Homo sapiens: one gene and its partners. The protein of the gene in region 2 interacts with the protein of the main gene of each other region in a pairwise test. Each region holds a gene or a part of one and is shown on either strand. Other genes may lie near its edges.

What was found. Proteins that work in one complex are often made in the same cells at the same time.
Region 1: the proteins of SH3BP2 (region 2) and MYO1F interact in binary tests that used the Homo sapiens proteins (3 or more experiments, as listed by UniProt).
Region 3: the proteins of SH3BP2 (region 2) and HCLS1 interact in binary tests that used the Homo sapiens proteins (3 or more experiments, as listed by UniProt).

The regions. Positions count from the first base shown.
Region 1 is NC_000019.10:8,567,443-8,574,470, reverse strand, and holds part of MYO1F (unconventional myosin-If), read left to right. Parts: intron 1-7,028. UniProt on the Homo sapiens protein: Myosins are actin-based motor molecules with ATPase activity. Unconventional myosins serve in intracellular movements. Their highly divergent tails are presumed to bind to membranous compartments, which would be moved relative to actin filaments.
Region 2 is NC_000004.12:2,788,654-2,796,088, forward strand, and holds the start of SH3BP2 (SH3 domain-binding protein 2), read left to right. Parts: upstream 1-4,431; 5' UTR 4,432-4,485; intron 4,486-7,435. UniProt on the Homo sapiens protein: Binds differentially to the SH3 domains of certain proteins of signal transduction pathways. Binds to phosphatidylinositols; linking the hemopoietic tyrosine kinase fes to the cytoplasmic membrane in a phosphorylation dependent mechanism.
Region 3 is NC_000003.12:121,650,904-121,657,931, forward strand, and holds part of HCLS1 (hematopoietic lineage cell-specific protein), read right to left. Parts: intron 6,450-7,028; coding exon 6,376-6,449; intron 1-6,375. UniProt on the Homo sapiens protein: Substrate of the antigen receptor-coupled tyrosine kinase. Plays a role in antigen receptor signaling for both clonal expansion and deletion in lymphoid cells. May also be involved in the regulation of gene expression.

The DNA of each region.
Region 1 (7,028 bases), on a different chromosome or scaffold from region 2:
CCATGGAAAAATTGTCTTCCATTAAACCGGTCTCTGGTGCCAAAAATGTTGGGGACCATTGCTTTACAGAGCACATAACATGCACTTGATCCATGGTAGCTGCCATTAGCTGGGATGTCCATTCATTTCTGGATTCAGCAATGAGGATGGACGGAGGTGACGATTGTGGTAATTGGGGAGGAGTTGCTGCGAGTGGTCATTGCTGGGTTGTTGGTGTCATTGGTTGTGGTGGTGGTTGTGGCTGTTTCTTGTTGCAGGTTCGTGGTGATAATGGCTCTTGCAGGTGGGCTGGTGGTGGTGGCGGTTGGTGTTTAATGTTGTTCGTTGGTGGTGGATTGTTTTCAGCTGGAAATTCTGGAGATGCTTGGTGACCAGTGGAATGATGACCATCGGTGGTTGCTGTTATTTGGAGAGGAAAGGTGTTGGTAGTAGCGTTCATTTGCTGCTGGTAGTTTATTGTTGGTTTCTGGTAAGATGATGATCAGCAATGGTGGTGCTGGTTCAATGTTGGGTTTTGAACAGGATAGGACTGGTGACTGCTGCTTTCTGTGGTTGCTAATGGTAGTTGGTTATGTGTGGTTGTTGATGGCTAGTATTGTTTTTTTGTTTTGTTTTGTTTCTGAGACAGAGTCTCGCTCTGTCACCCCGGCTGGAGTGCAGTGGTGCAATCTCGGCTCACTGCAACCTCCACCTCCTGGCTTCAAGCAATTCTCGTGCCTCAGCCTCCCAAGTAGCTGAGATTACAAGCACCTGCCACCACACCCAGCTAATTTTTGTGCTTTTAGTGGAGACGGGGTTTCGCCATGTTGGCCAGGCTGGTCTCCAACTCCTAACCTCAAGTGATCCACCCGCTTTGGCCTCCCAAAGTGTGAGATTACAGGTGTGAGCCACTGTGCCTGGCCGATGACTAGATGGTGGTTGGTTATTATAGCGTGGTGGTGGTGGTGGTGGTGATCGTGGGAGAATGTAAGGAAGGCTGATGCTGGAATTGCTCATGGGACCTGTCTGACATTGGCTAGTCATGATGGTATTGGAGTTATCAGCAGTTTCTGTTTGTCTTTGAGAAGGGTAGGAGAGAGAGTGAAGACGTTCACTGGTTGCCTTTGGTTGGTGATGGTGGTCATGTGAGGATAATAGTGATTGTCTCTTCTTTTTTTTTTGAGACAGAGTCTCGCTCTGTCACCCAGGATGGAGTGCAGTGGCATGATCTTGGCTCACTGCAAGCCCCACCTCCTAGGTTCATGCCATTCTCCTGCCTCAGCCTCCCGAGTAGCTGGGACTACAGGCGCCCGCCACCATGCCTGGCTAATTTTTTTCTATTTTTTTAGTAGAGATGGGGTTTCACCGTGTTAGCAAGGATGGTCTCGATCTCCTGACCTCGTGATCTGCCCGCCTCAGCCTCCCAAAGTGCTGGGATTATAGGCGTGAGCCACCACACCTGGCCAATAGTGATTGTTTCTAAGGTACAGTCACAGGGCCAGGAACAATGGCTCATGCCTGTAATCCCAACAGTTTGGAAGACGGAGGTGGGAGGATCACTTGAGGCCAGATGTTCGAGACCAGCCTGGGAGACATGGCAATACCCCATCTCTACAAAGCATTTAAAAGTTAGCCAGGCATGGTGGCATGGACCTGTAGTACCAGCTAATTGGGAAGCTGAGGTGGGAAGATCACTTGAGCCCAGGAGTTCCAGGCTGCAGTGAGCTGTGATGGCCCCACTGCACTCCAGCCTGAGCAACAGAGACAGACTCTGTTTCTAAACAAATAAATAAGATACAGCCACAAAGCAGGGAGACCAGTGAAGTGGCTGCTGGGTCCAGAATCAGTGGCCATGAGGATGGACAGGAAAGGCTGGGAGTCAAAAGGAATTTAGGAGAAAGAATCAGTTAAGACCACTAACTGGGCACGGGCACAGTGGCTCACACCTGTAATCCCAGCACTTTAGGAGGCCGAGGCAGGTGGATCACTTGAGGTCAGGTGTTCGAGACCAGTCTGGCCACCATGGTGAAACCCCATCTCTACTAAAAATACAAAAATTAGCCAAGCGGGGTGGCATGTGCCTGTAATCCCAGCTACTCAGGAGGCTGAGGCAGCAGAATCGCTTGAACCCGAGAGGCAGAGGTTGCAGTGAGCTGAGATCGCACCACTACACTCCAGCTTGGGCAACAGAGCGAGACTCTGTCTCAGAGGGGAAAAAAAAATGCCCATAATTGATTGGATGCAAAGAGTGAACGTAACAATGAATCAGAGACAGGCAGGTTTCTGTCTTGGGGGTTGGGGACCACATCCCAGAGGATCTTCCCCAAAAAGCAGGAGGGACAAGACCAGGGTTCCCCAGCTCCAGCTTCTGCGTGGAGATGTTTGAGACGGTAGCCACCGACTGTCAGCAATCTCCAGCGACGAGACAAAGAGCCCAGCTCCAGAAAGACAAGGGTCCCCACGTATAAAGGCCAGGCGCGGTGGCTTACGCCTGTAATCCCAATACTTTAGGAGGCCGAGGCGTGCGGATCACGAAGTCAGGAGATCGAGACCATCCTGGCTAACACAGTGAAACCCCGTCTCTAAAAATACAGGGGCTGGGCGCGGTGGCTTACACCTATAATCCCAGCACTTTGGGAGGCCGAGGCGGGCAGATCATGAGGTCAGGAGATCGAGACCATCCTGGCTAACATGGTGAAACCCCGTCTCTACTAAAAATACAAAAAATTACCCAGGCGTGGTGGCGGGTGCCTGTAGTCCCAGCTACTTGGGAGGCTGAGGCAGAAGAATGGCGTGAACTCGGGAGGCAGAGCTTGCAGTGAGCCGAGATGGCGCCACTGCACTCCAGCCTGGGTGAGAGAGCAAGACTCCGTCTCAAAACAATAAAAATACAAAAATACAAAAAAAAAATTAGCCGGGCGCGGTGGCGGGCGCCTGTAGTCCCAGCTACTCGGGAGGCTGAGGCAGGAGAATCGCTTGAACCCAGGAGGTGGAGGTTGCAGTGAGCCGAGATCATGCCACTGCACTCCAGCCTGGGCAACAGAGTGAGATTCCATCTAAAAAAAAAAAAGAGAGAGAGAGAGAAAAGAAAAGAAACAGAGTCCAGTCCCCCTGCTCCCCTGAGGGATGGAGCCTTTGGAGGTGAGAATGTTGTTTGCACAGTGCATGGACGCAGGGTGTGGCCCCAGAGCCCCACTGAGCTGGGGGCAAGGCTCCAGGGCCACCCTCAGGCACCAGGGCAGGGTCTGGGAGCTGAGAGCTGGCTCCAGAAGCAGCTACGGAGGCTTAGCTCTCCTCCCGGCAACCACAGCTCGCAGGACCTGGGTGAGGAAGGAAGTGGCTGTTTGTTTGCTGTCTTCAATCTAGAGCTCTTGCTCATCACGCCCAGAAAAAGCAGACAGCCTGGAGCCCATGGGGTGAGTTGCAAAAGCTCCCTCCTCCAGCCCTTCCTCCTGGCCAGCTCATGGCCACCATTGATGGGGACAGTGAGGAACGCTAGCATTTACACTGGACAACCTTTGCTTCGTTGAATCTGCAGAGCAGCCTGTGAGATTTGCACCCCTCGATGTTCCCATTTTCCGAATGAGGAAACTGAGGCAGAGAGGTTAGGTGAGCTGCCCAATCTAAAATGAAAGAGGATTTTGACTCAGTGACTCCCAAGGCCACACTATTAACAGCCATCTTGGCCGGGCACAGCGGCTTGCACCTGTAATTCCAGCGCTTTGGGAGGCCAAGGCAAGAGGATCAGCAGTCCAGGAGTTTGAGACCAGCCTAAGCAACATAGTTAGACTTTGTCTCTATTTAAAAAAAAAAAAATGTGGTTGGGTGCGGTGGCTCATCCCAGTGCCCGTCATTCCAGCACTTTGGGAGGTCAAGGCGGGCAGATCACTTGGGGTCAGGAGTTCAAGACCAGCCTGGCCAACGTGGTGAAACCCTGTCTCTACTAAAAACACAAAAATTAGCCAGGTGTGGTGGCGTGCACCTGTAATCCCAGCTACTCAGGAGGCTAAGGCAGGAGAATTGCTTGAACCTGGGAGGCAGAGGTTGAGCCAAGGTCATGCCACTGCACTCACAGACTGAGCAACAAGAGCGAGACTCCATCTCAAATAAAAAAAAAAATGTGGCTGGGTGCAGTGGCTCACGCCTATAATCCCAGCACTTTGGGAGGCCGAGATGAGTGGATTGCCTGAGGTCAGGAGTTCGAGACCAGCCTGGCCAACATGATGAAACCTGGTCTCTACTAAAAATACAAAAATTAGCCAGGCGTTGTGCACGCCTGTAATCCCAGCTACTTGGGAGGCTGAGGCAGGAGAATCACTTGAACCTGGGAGGCAGAGGTTGCAGTAAGCCTAGATCATGCCGCTGCACTCCAGCCTGAACAACAGAGCAAGACTCCATCTCAAAAAAAAAAAAATGTATTAGCCAGGCGTGGTAGTATGCACCTGTGGTCCCAGCTACTCAGGAGGCTGAGGCAGGAGGATTCGCTTGAGCCTGGGAGGTCAAGGCTGCAGTGATATCAAACCACTGCCTTCCAACCTGGGCAACAGAACAAGACTCTGTCCAAAAAAAATAACAGGCACCTTGACCACAGCCTCCTGTCCTCCTAAGCAATGAGAGGCCAGCAGGACTATGTGCTGACCCCACATGGCCTGGGCTGTCTATCCCTCCAGGACCATGACCCTCCATTCCAAACAGACTAGAATCCTGGTGTCCACCACACACCCAAGGCCTCTCTGGCTGATGTCTCTTGCAGCCACCACTGATGCTGCCTGGAAAGTTCATGTTGCAAGACGTGCCTTCTACAGGAAGCCCTCTCACCTCTCCACAGTACTTTCCAGCCATGGTCTCCTCTGGGCAACTGAGACACCACTTGGGGAACACCGAGCCCCCCAAGGGCAGGTTCTGGGCCTGGTCCACCTAAGCCTGGTCTCCACCTACCTCCATGCACAGTAGGGGCCCAGGAAGTGTGTTCCCTCCATGGCACACATCCCCCAGCCCCATAGGCACCATCACCTTCACCACAAACAGCCCCTCCCTGGTGTGATACCAGGAAGGTTGTCCCCGCCTGCCCTAGTTCTGCCTTCAGCCTTGGGGTAGAGAGACCTCTCTGAAGAGCTGAAGGAAGAAGCTACCCGTCCTTCCTACCCCACCCACCTCAAGCCCCTGACTGCCTTTCACAAGAGCTCCAGCAGGTTGAGTCATATTCAGCTTGTGGTCAACTGTGACCACAAGCTCTTCGTTGCATCCCCACCCCCAAGGAAGAGACTTACAAACAAACAGTTTTGACTTGACCCATGGAGACTTGGAGGCCACAGAATGAGAGAGATATCTGGGAGACAGGGCAGGGGGCAGTCTCATCCCAATAGGACTTCATTCATTCATTCATTCATTCAACAAGTATGTATTGACCAGGCTTTCTGTCCAACACTGATGCCTTAAATCCTCTCAAGGTCACAGATGACATTTCCTGAGGCATCTCGGCGCATTTTTTCTCTTTGTTCGCTCCTGTACTTGTTTCAGAGACCCCACACAAGGGTCATTATGGAATCCATTTGGTTATTTGTTGTTGTTGAGATGGAGTCTCGCTCTGTTGCCCAGGCTGGAGTGCAATGACGTAATCTTGGCTCACTGCAACCTCCACCTCCTAGGTTCAAGCAATTCCCCTGCCTCAGCCTCCCGGATAGCTAAGACTACAGACACCCGCCACCACGCCGGGCTAATTTTTGTATTTTTAGTAGAGATGAGGTTTCACCATGTTGGCCAGGCTGGTCTTGAACTCCTGACCTCAAGTGATCTGCCTGCCTCGCCTCCAAAAGTGCTGGGATTACAGGCGTGAGCCACCATGCGCGGCCAAATCCACTTGCAAAGAGGAGAAACTGAGGCTTGGAGAAGAGAAGTGACCTCCCCAGAGTCACACAGTCAGTCAACTGTCAAGCCAGGCTTTGACCCCAATCCATCACATGCCAAAATTCTCGACTATCCTCCCCACACGATATTCACTTGAGCAAAACCCTCTCTCCCTTCGATGCAAACAGCCTGTGATTAATTTTTTTTTTTTTTTTTTTTTTTGAGACGGAGTCTCACTCTTTCACCCAGGCCGGACTGCAGTGGCACCATCTCAGCTCACTGCAAGCTCCGCCTCCCAGGTTCACGCCATTCTCCTGCCTCAGCCTCCCGAGGAGCTGGGACTACGGGCGCCCGCCACCGCACCTGGCTAATTTTTTGTAGTTTTAGTAGAGACGGGGTTTCACCGTGTTAGCCAGGATAGTCTCGATCTCCTGACCTCGTGATCCACCCACCTCGGCCTCCCAAAGTGCTGGGATCACAGGTGTGAGCCACCGTGCCCGGCCCAGCCTGTGATTTTACAGGTGGCTGGAGCATGGAGTGTCTGAGGGCCTCTAGTGCCTGGGGCAGGATAGAGAGGGAGAGAATGGTCAGAGAAGAGGGCCACTCTGCCAGATGAGGAAAGAGGGGAAGGGCAGGAAGAGGAACCAAGTCGTCAGAGCCGGGAGAGCCAGGAGGGCTGATGGGCCTAGCCAGACACAGCTGACCCCAGTGAGGGGAAGTGGCCTGGGGTCTTAGTTCAGCCTGAGTGGCCTGGCAGGCTGAAGCCTGCACTGGCCCCCAAAGGGGAAATTGTAGACATGACCCATCTTCTCCCCAACCCATCCTCATCTGACCTCAGCAGCAACCCCGGCGATCTCTGATACAGACCAGCCTGGGGAAGGACAGCTTCGTGGGTCCTCCCCAAGGTCCTCTCTGCACTGCTGTGTGTCCTTGAAGAGGACACTTAACCTCTCTGTGCTGTAGTTTTCTCTTCTATAAAATGGACCCAGGATGGGTGCGGTGGCTCACGCCTATAATCCCAGCACTTTGCGAGGCCGAGGTGGGAGGATCACCTGAGGTTGGGAGTTCGAGATGAGCGTGCCCAACGCGGTAAAACCTTGTCTCTACTAAAAATACAAAAATCAGCCAGGCGCCTGTAATCCCAGCTACTCAAGAGGCTGAGGCAGGAGAATCGCTTGAACCCAGGAGGTGGAGGTTGCAGT
Region 2 (7,435 bases):
AGAGCCAGACTGATGCCTGCGTGTGAGGCCCAGCCTGCCTCCTCAAACTCCTCTTCCCATGAGCCACAATCCTCCCCCACACCCCCTCTGCCCCTCCCTCCAGTGCTGGGCTGTGTGGCCAGGGGACTGGACTGTGTGGCAGGATGACTCCACACAGCCTCCCCCAGGGAGTGGGGATTGGGGGAGGTAGGGTGGGAACCTGTCCCCTCCTATCCCCAGGGAAGCAGGTGGGAAGCCTGTGGCCTTGGCCCTACTCAGGAATTGCCTCTCCTAGCGAGGCGGCCTGGTGAGGTGGTACACTGTATCACTGTGGGGCCACTCCTGGGGACAGGGACAGGTGGGAGGGCAGGGTCCATGCTTCCAAGGTCCTCTGGACACGGGACCCAGGTGGCAGCTCCAAAACCTGGCTAGGATGGGCACAGTGGCTCATGCCAGTAATCCCAGCACTTTGGGAGCTGAGGTGGGTGGATCGTTTGAGCCCAGTAGTTCGAGACCAGTCTGGGCAACATGGTGAGACGCTATTTCTACAAAAAAATAAAAAATATAAATAAATAAAAATTAGTTGGGTGTGGTGGCACATGCCTATAGTCCCAGCTGAGGTGGGAGGCTCACCTGAGCCCAGGAGGTTGAGGCTGCAGTGCCACTGCACTCCAGCCTGGGCAACAGAGTGAGACCCTATCTCAAAACAAAAGAACAAAAACAAAACCTACCTAGCCCCTTCCTTGGGGCTGCCCCTTGAGGCCTTTGTCTGTTCATTCACCAATCATGCACTGGGAGTCTATTTTGTAACTCAGGTGCCCTGGAAGCAGAGCCCAGACCAAGGGAAGCGAGGGGTCCAGGCACACCCGCCAAGGGTGATCTAGGGGCAGGAATGGCAAGTGCAAAGGCCCTGAGGTGGGAATGTGTCTGCGGTGCTGGAGGAGACAGGAGGCCAGTGTGGCCAATGCTAAGCGGGGCTATGGAGAGAGAACTCAGGGAGCAGGCAGGTGGCACAGGCTCGGTCTGGGCCCTGCCCATGCAAGGATAGAAGGCATTTGCCTTGGGGGAGGTGGGATCTACAGAAAGTTCTGAGTGAAGAAGTGACATGACCTGACTCACACTGTGACTGCACCCCTCTGGTGTGATGATGGACACTGCCAGGCAAGCGCAGGAGAGGGAGGATGAGGCAGGCAGGGGCTGAGAAAGGCAGGATTCCAGGTGTGCTTTGCCAACAGAACCTTCAGGGCGGACGGGATGTGGGGCGAGCAGAGAGGCATCAGTGCGGACGACTCCAGGGTTGCTGGCCCAGGGAAGGAAAAAGAGACTTGGCAGGCGCATGAAGCCCCCTGCTGGGACGCCTGTGACACGTAGACCAGCGGCAGATCTTGCCCTCGCCATCCTAACCGTCAGCCTCACCCTCAGCAGGTCCTGCCCTACCCCCCAGACAGCAGCTGCCTCTGCCTGTTCTGGGTCCTGCCAAATCAGTGGCATGGCCGATGGCACACGGGGGATGGGTGTGGCGGGGGACCGGCCCCCTTCTCTTTGGCCTTATTCTGTGGGTGTGATTGGGGCATCACCATGGGCTTCTACCCCGGATGTGCCCTGTGGAGGTCTGCTCCCCAGCTCCCTGCCGGCCAGGGGTCCTCGCCTTACCTCTGCTCACCTGCCCTGCATACCCTCCCAGCAGGCGAGGTCATCCTCCTCACCCATCCCTGCTCTGTCAGCCTCAGCGGAACCCCTGGGTGCCCAGAGGCTCTGGCCACAGCCTCCAGCAGCTTCTTGCTCGGAGGGGCTGCTGGGAGCTGCCCTGAGGCCCCAACTAGGAGTTCCTTCCTCCCACGCCCTGGGGTTGGACTGGTAAGGGGGGAGAAGGGGAGGAATATGAGGTGTGGGATTCTCCCCACGGTGGAGGCTGCACCCTGTTCCCCCTGTTTGGCTGAGGTGCCCTGCACAGAGGTGCTTTGCATTTCTGGGTGATCATTCTCTAGGCGCCTGGTCCGTCCACACTGTCTGCAGTGACCCTGCTCCGTCAACTCTGAGCTTGGCATCTGAGGCCAGCCCTGTACACCCTGCCCTGTAGTCAGGCCCTGGCGGGGCCGCACCGACGTTTGGCTTTGCTCCACTCCCCTCCCGGTCTCTGCCCCTTTCCCCAGCTGGTCCCCTGGGAACAGGACACTTGCTGTGACCCAATGGCATCTGCTCATTTGTCCATTTGCTCCTCTCGTGAGCCACAAGGGTAGGGACTTCCTTGTATCATCTTGGGTCCCCGGGGTCTGGTGTGGGGCCAGGCATTTATTTAGCTGAACTGGACATCAGGGACATCAAGATGTACAGCCCCAAGGTCATGAGTGTTTTGTCAGGAGCCTTAGACCAGTCTGGCCCAGCCTGGAGCTCCCTCCGCATGTGGCCTCTTACAGGAGTGACGCAGCCCCATGCGGTGCTAACAGTGGCAGCACTGAACGTCGGATGGGGCTGAGCCCAGCCACTTCCACAATGGCTGTAGTTCCTATCTCTTCCTCCCTGCTAGGAAAATGTGAAATAGCCCAGAGTGGGGGGTGGGCAGAAGAGTTGCAGGCTACCCAATGCTGGGATGAGCAGAGTTGAGACCTGGGGAGCCAGGCCCAGGACACTTACAGGTGGGGATGTGAGCAGGCACCCCAGAGAGTGAGCACCCCAGCCAGCCAGCACCCATCTACTCCCTCACTGGGGTCTAAGTTCAGCCCCGAGAGCTAGGCTGTAGGTGGGTAGAGTCACAGCCCCAGCGCCGGTGTGAGGGGTGGCCCTGGGCCAGGTAGAGTGAGTATCTGCCTGCTGTCATGCCCCATCCACTTCTGCCGCCTCCCCAGTAGAGGACCCCCTCCATTTCACAGATGGGGAAAAGGGGCCCTGTTGTCTGAAGACTCTCCCATATCCTCCCCTGCCTCTGCCATCCCCTGCTTTGTCCCTTCCCTTCCAGAGGCCCTGCCTTGGTCCTGGTCACTTCCTGGTAGGCACTGGCTCTTCCTCTATGCCTGGGCTCAGGGCCTGGCCACCTAGTTTTCTGACTCCTCCCACTTACTCCCCTCCCCAGTTAACCTCTCTGATCCCAAGTGTGTCTCTCCAGCAGGGAGGAGGGCTATTGCAGCCAGGGATCCCCTTTCTGAGGCTTGGGACCCATTATTGGGCAGCTCTGGGACAGGTGGACGGTGACTTGGCCCACACTCGGTCCAGCTGCAACCCTGAGAACCCGCTTGGTTTGGCTGTGTCTCCTGGAGGCCCTCAGGTATTTCAACCTGTAGGACCCAAACCCAGTCCTTCACCTGCTGCAGGGCCAGCCCTGGACACCCCTGCCCCTGCCTGATTTGGAGCAGCCAATTCAGCCCCTGTCATTGGACTCTGGCCTCTTGTGCTCAGTACAGAGGGTCAGACCTTGGCCGCCTGCCTGGACAGGGCCAGGTCACCACCACCCACCCCCAGCTCCCTTGGGTTCCCAGCAAGATCCTGTCCTTCCTCTACTCACAGCTTCCTGGGCTCTGGGACCTGGGGTCCAGTCCCCACTCCTCATGGGGAGGAGTCCCCCCACGCCCCAAGCAGTTGACTCCCGCACTGGTGGGGGGTCCGCTCGCCCTCAAGCTCTGCAGGCCCAGCTTGGTCTCCCCAGCCTCTTCACTTTCTCCACGGCTCCCTCCACCTACCTGGCCCTGAGAGCTCCCCAGGGAAGCCATTTCCTCCCAGGAAGCCCCTCCTCTTCTCGCCCCTGCCCTTACACCAAGGCATCTGGGCCTACTCTTAGGGAGAGGGTGATGGTGGAGGAAAGGGAGCCTCAGAGGAGGCCAAGTGTAAAGCACCCGGTCTCCTGTGCCTCCCAGCCCCAAGACGACCTCTGGGCCACCGGAGTCCAGACCTGGTCCAAGAGGCGAGGTCCCCCTGGGAAGTGCCTGAAAAGTACCCTGGAGGACATTTGGAAACAAAGACAAGGTTTCCTGGTGCCCAGCAAGCCCTCCCCCACCTCCCCTGCTCCTGTCTTGGCCAGGGCCTAAGTCGCACTCACGGGGCAGGGGTGGGGCCGCCCAGGATCAGGACCACGGGGCTGGGGGGGTGGACAGCGCCCTTTCCACCTGGGTCGCTGGGCACTGGGGTGTCACTGGGAGGGACACGCAGGAGGGACAGACACGCTACCTCACTCACGGGCGAGAACTAAGCACCTACTGTGGACCCGGCGTCTAGGCCCGCGACAACGCCAGTCTTCGCCCCCCAGGGGCCTCGTCCCGGGGCCGCGGAGGCCACGTGCAGTTCCCCGCCCACCCTGAGGTACCGGCCCCGCCCCACGCCCAGCTCGGACCTCCAGGATTGCGGGACCCGCCGGGGAGGGGCGGGGCCGGGGCGGGGCCAGGAGGAGGGCGGACTGGGCGGGCGCGGGCGGGACGGAGCTGCGGCGGCGGCGGGTCCCGCGGGCGGGAGCGCCTGGCGGCCGAGTCAAGCCGCCGCCTCGACCCAGGGCCCGCGGGCCAGGAGAGCGCTCGGCGGGTAAGCCTCGGCGGCGGGTCTCGGCGGGTCTCGGGGGTCTCGCGGGGGGGCGGTCTCCGCGTCTGGAAGGGGCTCGGCGGGCCTTGGCGGTCTGGGGGCTCTCGGCGGGTCTCGGGGGTCTCGGGGGAGTCTCGGGGTCCCGACAGGTCTCGGCGGGTCTCGGGGGTCTCGGGGGAGTCTCCGGGGAGTCTCAGGGGTCCCGGCAGGTCTTGGCAGGTCTCGGGGGAGTCTCAGGGTCCCGGCAGGTATGGGCGGGTGTCGGGGGTCTCGGGTGCGCAGCAGCCTCCCCCGGGCCCCGGGGCCTCCGTGTCCTTGCCAAAGGACGCACGGGGCCTGGGCACGGCGGGCAGTGCCCGAGGGAGCGCGGCTTCGGGGCGGGGGCCGGGTGTCCCTTGCCGGGGGCTCAGGGGTGGGAGGCGGTGCGACGCGTCTGTTTCGCACCCCTCGCGCCCCTCTGGCCCCGCGGCGGGGCCCCTTTACGCGACCCTCCCCACAAGACTCAAAGGCTGCGGCGGGCACTCGCTCTCCGCCCTTCCCGGAATCCAAACTTCCCTCTGCAGCGGCCGCGCTTCACGGAGGGCAAGAAAAGCCGCCCACTGGCGCTGATTCACACTGAAGTGTGAGTGACTGATAGCCGGGCGTCTGAGACTCTCATGGGCAACAGGGAATCTCAGGGGTGGCAGAGGGACTGGAGGAGTTAGGGGGCGGGGACAGCCCCTTCCACCTGTACGCTGGCCTCCCTGCAGCCCAGCACTTTCCCGCTGCTCTGGGCCTCGGCTCCCTGGGGGTATTGAGGGCCTGAGCCCTGCTGTGGGGAGCCTTCTGCTGGTGCTCCTTTCCGTGAGCACCTCCTATCCCCTCTCTGTGCCTCAGTTTGCTCATCTGTTGACACTGGGGACAGCTGTGCCTCCTGGTCTAGTGGCCACACTTAAGTCCTTCGAATTGGCTGTGGCCAGGGGCGGGTACTCCGTGTGGGCTGCTGGGGTGGACAGCCTGCCTGGATGACATGTGTGTGGCCTTGCAGGTGACATGGGCCGGTGATGCAATGTGTAGAATTGTTTCCACAACCGCCTGAAGGCAGGGCCCACAGCCTCCTCCTTGCCGAAGCAAGCCTCTGGGTTCAGGTCAGCCCTGCACCAACTCCATGAGCCTGGACAAGCTCCTGCCCTCACTGGCTCAGGCCCTGTGGGACCAGAGGAGGGGCTGGGCTCCACCCCCTCCTGGTTCTTCCCACTCTGTCCACTGTCTCCTCTACGTAGACACCGTCGAAGGGCCCTCTTGGAGCCCAACCTCAGGGCCCCACTCCAGGCACTCCACTCCTGGCAGGACAGGAGGCCTGGGACGAGGGCTGCAAGGGAGTGAGGATTCTGTCTATCCCCTCTCCCTGCCACCCGCCAGGCTCCCTTTGCCTGGCTCTGTGCCCTGCGTTAGGCACACCCTGGAGGGGGCAGGCAGAAGGAAGACAGATAGGCAGCCGTGTCTAGGAACTGCCAGCCAGGGCCATCTGGTGAGAGGGGTGCTGACAGGGGACCTGGCCTTTCAGGGAGTCCCCAGGCCTCCAGGATCATGGGGGAGCCCACCAAGGAGGCTGGCCTGAAGAGGCAGACAGAGGGAGGACAGGCTCTGGGCCTGCCTTGGCCCTTTCTGCCCACATGGACAGAGGAAGCAGGGTGCTGAGTCAGCTGGAGCTCCCCACCCCCCAGGGATGCACGCACACAAGCAGGCCCACAGACGGGAAGTCCAGGGGCCCAGAGAGACGAGATGGCCAGCCTTGGTTCCTGAGGGGCAGGGAGGAAGGGCGCAAACTCAGCCAGGATCTTGGGTGTGAACTCAGATGCCACCAGTTTCCAGCTGTGTGATCATGGCCAGGAGGCTTCCCCCTGCCACCCCTCCGTTTTCTCATCCATGACCTGAGGGCTGTGAAGCACTTTGTACCTGGTGGGTGGCTATGAGTGTCCGTAGGGGGGATGGTGGTGGTGGTGACATGTGCTTGGTATTCAGTGACAGTGGGTCGCTGAGGGTGCTCTCCCTGGTCCTCAGGGCCGCTGTATGTCCTGTTTTGGGTGGGGGCAGGGACTGGCCTGGAGAGGCCTGGGTAAAGGCCAAGGCTCCCAGGTTCCTGCCCACATTGGACTAAGGCCTGAGTCCATCAGGAGTGGCCAGTGTTGGGCAGCCCCTGGGTCTTCCTGCGTTCTGTCCTCAAAAGCTCCCTTGTGGGGACACCCCAGGTCAGTGACTATGTGTGGCAGGCTCTGCCCTCCTCACTCTCTGTCCTCTCTTGACCTCATGATCTGCCCACCTCCCAAAGTGCTGGGATTACAGGCGTGAGCCCCCACGCCTGGCAGAGTATATAGTTCTTTAATAACCGGGTGGCTTGGCCATCACTGTGCAGCCTGGGTGGGTGAGGAGAAGGGCAGGCTGGCGGGGAAAAGACGGGGAATTTGCCACAAGGTGAGAGCTGTCCTACCCCAGACGCAGTGGAGCGGCTCCCACCCCTCGGGCCAATGAATACAGGGTGGGCCGTCAGGAGGAGGGATCTGAGCCGGGCGGGCAGCCATGCAGGTACAGACAGACTAAGCCAAAGGCGGGCGGTAGGGAGGGTGGGAGACCAGTTTGACGGGAGTGGCCTTTGCATGCCAGGTGTGGTGAGGGTATGGAGGGGCCTGGGAGGCAAGGAGAAGGGGCCGTGCAGACCCTGGAATCCTTCCTCCAGGATAGGCGGCTCCTCCCCAGAAGGCCTCTGCATTCTTCTGGTGGCCCTGTCTGGACACCGAGGGGCTGGAGACAGTCCCACGTGTGGGCTGCCTAAGTCCCAGAGGGGGTGGTAGGGAGCATTTCAGGCTCACTGGCTGGCCCCCTTCCCTGGGGCACTGGACCCTCCTCACCACCCCTTGGCCTGTGCACGGGAGGGTAGACAGGATGGTGCCAAGAGCAAGGGACTGGCCCTCAG
Region 3 (7,028 bases), on a different chromosome or scaffold from region 2:
AAGGCGGGTGGATCACAAGGTCAGGAGCTCAAGACCAGCCTAGCCACTATGGTGAAACCCCGTCTCTACCAAAAATACAAAAATTAGCTGGGCTTGGTGGTGGGCGCCTGAGTCCCAGCTACTCAGGAGGCTGAAGCAGCAGAATCGCTTGAACCCAGGAGGCAGAGGTTGCAGTGAGCTGAGATCATGTCACTGCACTCCAGCCTGGGCAACAGAGCAATCAATCAATAAATAATCAATCAATCAATCAATAAAGTGAAAAAGCAAGTTATGTTCTGGGAGAATACACTTGTAAAACACATATTTCACAAAAGACTTACATCCAGAATATATAAAGAACTTTCAGCAACTTAATAAAAAGACAAACAACTCACTTTAAAAGTGAGAAAAAGATGTGAACAGATACTTCATAAAGAAGATATATGAAGATATATGAATGGCAAATGAAAATATACTCAATAAAACTGGTCATCAGAGAAATTCAAATTAACTTAAAAGAGTGGTTAAGTTGGTTTTGTTGTTGTTGTTGTTGTTTTGTTTTGTTTGTCTTTTAGAGAGGATCTCAGTCTGTCACCCAGGCTGGAGTGCAGTGGGGCAAACATGGCTCACTGCAGCCTCAACCCCCTGGGCTCAAGTGCTTCTCCTGCCTCAGCCTCCTGAATAGCTCAGACCACAGCCAGCCAATTTTTAATTTTTTTGTAGACTCTGAATCTCTCCACATTGTCCAGATGGTCTTGAACTCCTGGGCTCAAGTCATCCTCCTGCCTTGGCCTCCTAAAGTGCTGGGATTACAGGCATGAGCCACTGCACCCAGCTAAATTTAAAAATACTAACAATAACAAATGTTGACAAAAATGTGGAGCATCTGAAACCCACACATTACTGGTAGGAATGAAAGAGGGTAAATTCCCTTTGGAAAAGAGTTTGAGAGTCTCTCAAAATGTTTAACATACACTTATTATATGACTCAGCAATTCTACTCCTGGCAATTTTCCAAGAGAAATAAGGATATGTCAACAAAAAGATTTGTACCCAAATGCCCATGACAGTTTCATTTGTAATAGATCCAAATTGTCAATAATCCAAATGGCTATTGACAGGATAATGAATAATAAAACTGTGACATATCCATACAATGGGACACTACATGACAATATAAAAGAACAAAAGACTTATATACACAACACCATGGATAAATCTGGAAAACATTATGCTGAAAGAAGACAACACAAAACAATACATTCTATATTATTCTGTTTGCATGAAATTCTATGCCAGACAAAACTAATCTATAGTGACAAAAAGATCAGTATGGGGTGTATTGACTGCAAAGAGGTGCAGGGAAATTTTCATGGTAATAGATATATTCTATATCTTGATTGCATTGGTGGTTATATTATATATATATAGTCAAAACTCATTGAACTATTTGCTTATAATGATTAGGTATCAATAAATTTAATTTTTGCCTGGGCAATGGTGGCTTACACCTGTAATCCCAGCACTGTAGGAGGCCGAGGCAGGCGGATCACTTGAGGTCAGGAGTTCAAGACCAGTCTGGCCAACATGGTTAAACCCCGTCTCTACTAAAAATACACAAATTAGCTGGGCAAGGTGGCACATGCCTGTAATCCCAGCTACTCGGGAAGCTGAGGTAGGAGAATCACTTGAAGCTGGGAGGCAGAGGCGGAGGTTTCAGTGAGCCGAGATCGTACCACTGCACTCCAGCCTGGATGACAGAGCGAAACTCCGTCTCAAAAAAAACAAAGTTAATTTTTGAAAAATAATAAAGTGAAGAAAACCTTAAATGAAAGAGACTTTGGGCACTCATAAAGAGGTTTGTTTATGAAGTGATTGTAGTATTATTAAGGCCAACTTATCAAGTACTTTGTCACTGTAAACAGAATAGCAAGCAGCCTTAGGGAATTGGCAATAGCTTAGTTCATGGGAATTTGCATTTCATTTCAACAAAAGAATTACGGACATGACGATATTATGTTTATTAGACAAAAACAATATATTGGTTAAGATTTCAGCCCATGGAGTCAGACTGAGCCGAATTCAAATTACTACAGGTTGACTATCCCTCATCCCAAACGCTTGGGACCAGAAGTGTTTTGGATTCAGGATTTTTTCAGGTTTTGGAATATTTGCATATACATAATGAGATATCTTGGGGACGAGACCCATGTGTAAACAGGAAATTCATTTATGTGTCATATACACTATATTAAGGAAGGTATTAAAGAAGAACTAAATAAATGAAGGTAACTTTATTTTTCCCTTGGGGACGCTGAAAAAACTGTTGTGCACCTGTATTTTGACTGAGACCCATCACATGTAGTCAGGTGTGGAATTTTCTACTTGTGGTATCATGTGGGCTTTCAAAAATTTCAGATTTTGGAACATTTTAGATTTTGAATTTTTGGATTAGGGATGCTCAACCTGTATCTCTGTATCCTCGGACAAATTGCTAAACATTAATATATCCATTCACTTTTCTGTGAAATCAGGATGCCAACGTCATCTATGATATAGGATTGTTTTTAAAAAGTACTCTGTGTTTTGCAAGACATATAATAGCTTAATAAATGTTAGTCATTATTCTTAAGTTATAGCCATGGCTCTTCCCAGTACCCCTGTGAGGTAAACAGGGATGGTACTATAATCTCCAGTCAGCGCTGGAAATCAAGATAGGATGGTAAAATATTATTACTCTCCTCAGCATCATAAGCCTTTTTACAGCAGAGCTGGAATCAGTCCCTAGAGCTCCAGAATTCTATTTCTATACTCTTGGCATTACACCATTCTTTATTTCCACTTGCTATAAAATGTCAGGGCACGAGAAGAGGACAGGGCCACTGAGGCAGACATCCTATGGTTATAGCTCAGTAAAGATTTAATCTAAAGGCCAGACTGGTTCCAGGAAGTGCTGAAAGATTATTCCAGAGCAGTGCCACTCAGTGTGTGGTCCACAAGCTGAACTGTTTCTGTTTCACAGGGAAATAAGAATAAAAATTGAGAATATGTGTTTAGAAACTTTTATAGCAATTTGACATAGTGATTTTATTCTTTTTCTTTTTCTTTTTTAGAAATGGGGTCTCACTGTTGCCCAGGCTGGAGTACAGTGGCTACTCACAGACACAATCCCACTACTGATCAGCACTGGAGTTTTGACCTGCTCCATTTCTGACCTGGGCAAGTTCACCCCTTCTTAGGCAACCTATGGTCCCCTGCTCCTGGGAGGTGGGAGGTCACTATATTGATTCAGAATTCAGCGTGGAGACCCAATCAGCATAGAGCACTATAGCCCAGAACTACTGGACTCAAGTGATCCTCCTGCCTCAGCCTCCTGAGTAGTTGGGTCTATAGGCACAGACTAGCATGCCTGACAACATCGTGATTTTATATCTGTTGAATTTAAAAATAAAAACTGTGTTTGTATTGTCTATGTTATTTTTAACCATTTATTTTTCCAGAAACTTAATTGTATTTTATTTTACAAAAGTATCAGTCTGTGACAGATTTGAAAATAAACAAACAGGTCAAGGGAAAAGACACCCTTGAGTCTTGAGAATGAATGGGCAAGAGTGGAGAAAAGAAGGTGGAGAGAAGGGTGATAGTTCTTGAAAACCAGGCAGTTCCTTTACAGAATGGATAAGGGATGCATAGGACCATTTGAATTATTCACTGAATTACCAAATTACTATCCAAACTAAATTTATTCAAGACAGACCTAAAAAGAGACATCACGGTGTGGGGAAGGTAGTAAGATTAGTAAGAACTGCAACCACTTCCTTTTCCTGCTTTTAGTCGTCTCAGCTCTACAGCTACTGTTTTGTTTTGTTTGTTTGTTTTTTGTTTTTTCATTTTGGGATCTGTCAGTGTTAGCATCTACAGCTACTGTTCTCCTCTCCAATTTCCCTCTCCTTTCCAAGGACCATGGTGATTCCCATCAGATGTTAAAGACTGACTTAGCCCACACTAACGAGAGGGAATCCCCAAATAGTGGAGACTTACTACTGGAAAGTCCTCTAGAGGTCTTTTTGATCCAGATGGGCAAAATGAGAATCAGAGAGGAAAAGGGACTTGTCTAAAGCCACCTGGCCTGTTACCAGCAGATACCAGGCTTTCACTCCTTGATAACCTGGGTAAATGGGAGATGAGCGAGATTTTTTTGTCAATATCTCCATCGTTTATTCTATCTGATAGATTCAGTTAGGTTAACAAGGAAATGTGCAGGGTCACCATGTTGTACCACTCCAGGCAGCACCCGTCAGAGTGATCTGTGTATAGGAGTTGTGCAATCCAACAGTCCAGGTAGACACCACTTAGGAGAAAAAAGGGCTGTTGTCTGTTTACATGTTTGTTAGATTTTAGAAAGGAAATCTGATTAAACTAACCTATATTAACAGGAAACAAAACTAACATCACTGAGCTGCTCAGAAGTGCTAAGTACTGCATTAGACATTGGCTATCCCATTGACCTGTAACTATACATCTTCAGGGTGGCTATTTTTTTTTAAGTTATTTCATTTTTTTATGAGGGTTGCTTGCTCTTTTTTTTTTTTTTTTTTTTTTTTTTGCCAATGCCTACTATATTGCAAGTCGTCATGGCGGAGTGTTGGGAAGTTTTCAATTAGCAATAATCACACCTCGGATAAACCTCATTGGCTACAATACCACCAAAGGCATGAAGTGTGCATCCTCATCTGGACAATTCCCAGAATACCAGCGTTGAGTGGCCTTTATTCAGAAAAGGAAAAGGGTCTTGTGGTTTTTTTTTTTTTTTTTTTGATCTATGAGTCTATAGAGGGGTATCACAGAAGCTTCCTGAATGACCCTGTTCCATTGTTTCAATCTTTTTCCAGAATGGCATGGTTTAAGAATAATATTCATTATAGCTACTTAATTGAAACCATTTATTTATTTATTTATTTATTTATTTATTTATTTATTTATTGAGACTGAGTCTCGCTCTATCACCCTGGCTGGAGTGCAGTGGTGCGATCTCAGCTCACTGCAACCTGTGCCTCCTGGGTTCAAGAGACTCTCGTGCTTCGGCCTCCTGAGTAGCTGGGATTACAGGTGCCCGCCACCACGCCCATCTAATTTTTGTATTTTTAGTAGACACAGGGTTTCATCATGTTGCCCATGCTGGTCTTGAACTCCTGACCTCAAGTGATCTTCCTCGCTCGGCCTTCCAAAGTTTTGGGATTACAAGCGTGAGCCACCACGCCCGGCCGAAACCATTTATTTCTGATTAAACAATGTGGTATTGTCATCCAGTTGTAGAAACTTGTGCCAGGCTTTCACAGTATGTTGCTTGTGCAATGTGGTCATCCACTGACACTTTTTAAAATCTAGAGGTAAAAACACTGCTTTTAGGGTGCGGTAGGGGGAGTTAAAAATGGAGCTTAAAACTGTATTAATCTTGCCATTTTGTGTGTAGTTGTTGAATTTTTGCTTGTTACACTATTTATTGTGTCTACCTTGCTACTAATGTTTGACATTCTGATACTATCCAAAGCAGATGGTCCTGGTTAGATGATCCTGAATCATCCGTGGAAGAGAGAAGGGGATCTCTCAGCCTGAATGTATGACATATCCCACAGAAACCCCTGGATATGTCTGTAAGTTCCTTTTATCTTCTGGTATCGGAGGGTTTTGTTTGTTTGTTTGTTTCTGGTAAAATGCATATGGGGCTATAATCTTAAAGATCCCTGAACATCGTTGCCAAAATAGTTTTTATCAACAGGTTTTCCAAGTGTTACATTTCTTCATATTACCATTCATGGCTTCCAACTTCTGTCAAATAGCTAAGTACAAATCTGTATTTTAAAAGTTATTTGGGCCAGTTATGGGAGCTGAAGTGGCCTCTTTTTATAGCATTTATTCTGAGTTCTTCACCTTGACATTTTACTGAATTGTTCTTAGTTCATCTGAAGGAAGTCACCCTGAATTCTAAATACATATTTACATTTATCTGAAGAGATAGATAGGAGATAGATGATTGCCAGGTAGATAGATAGAGAGGACCTTAGTATTTGGTCCACTTCCTCTATGAATCTCTCATGCCTTACTAAAGGAAGGGAGGCAGTTAATCCAATAGACCCACTTGGGGAAATAGCAGAGTTGTTAGGTATAAAAGATAGATAATAGGGTTGAGGAGGGTAAGAGGAGAGACATAAAATGGAAATATGCAATGACACACAGGTACACACAGGAACAGACTCTAGAAAAAAAACAAACACAATAATACATAGACATGAACTACCCTATCCTTTTCCTCCCTCACCTTCCCCCAAGTCTCCGAGTTTTCTTTGGGCTCTTCCCATAACCCCCTTCCTTTTCTCCAGTCCTTTCGGCACCTACTTGATGTGTTCTGTGCGTCCAGACCCCTCGATGGTCTTGGCTCCCCATCGTTGCTCCTTTTCAGAGATGTCATTCTGCAAACGACAGCACGCAGTAATACATGACGGCAAGAAATGTGCCACATTGAGAAGGGCCACCCAACTGACACATGCCCTCCATGTCCCCTGTGTCCACTGCCTTCTTCAGTCTGGGTCTTTATTCACATCCCCTCTATATTTATCCCATCCTGACCCCATGTAAGAATTAAACTGGTGAGGCCAGGCGTGGTGGCTTATGCCTGTAATCCTAGCATTTTAGGAGGCCGAGGCGGGTGGATCTCTTTAGGTCAGGAGCTCAAGACTAGCTTGGCCAACATGGTGAAACCCCATCTCTACCAAAAAAATACAAAAATTAGCCAGGTGTGGTGGCATGCACCTGTAGTCCCAACTGCAGGGACTACTTGGGAGGCTGAGGTAGGAGAATCGCTTGAACCTGGGAGGCAGAGGTTGCAGTGAGCTGAGATTGCACCACCGTACTCCAGCCTGGGTGACAGAGTGAGACTCTGTCTCAAAAAACAAACAAGAAAACACAAAGAATTAAACTAGTGAGCTCTGAAACCTCCGTTCCTCCTCTGCCTACTTCATGCCTACCCCATCTGGTCTCCTACAGCTTTT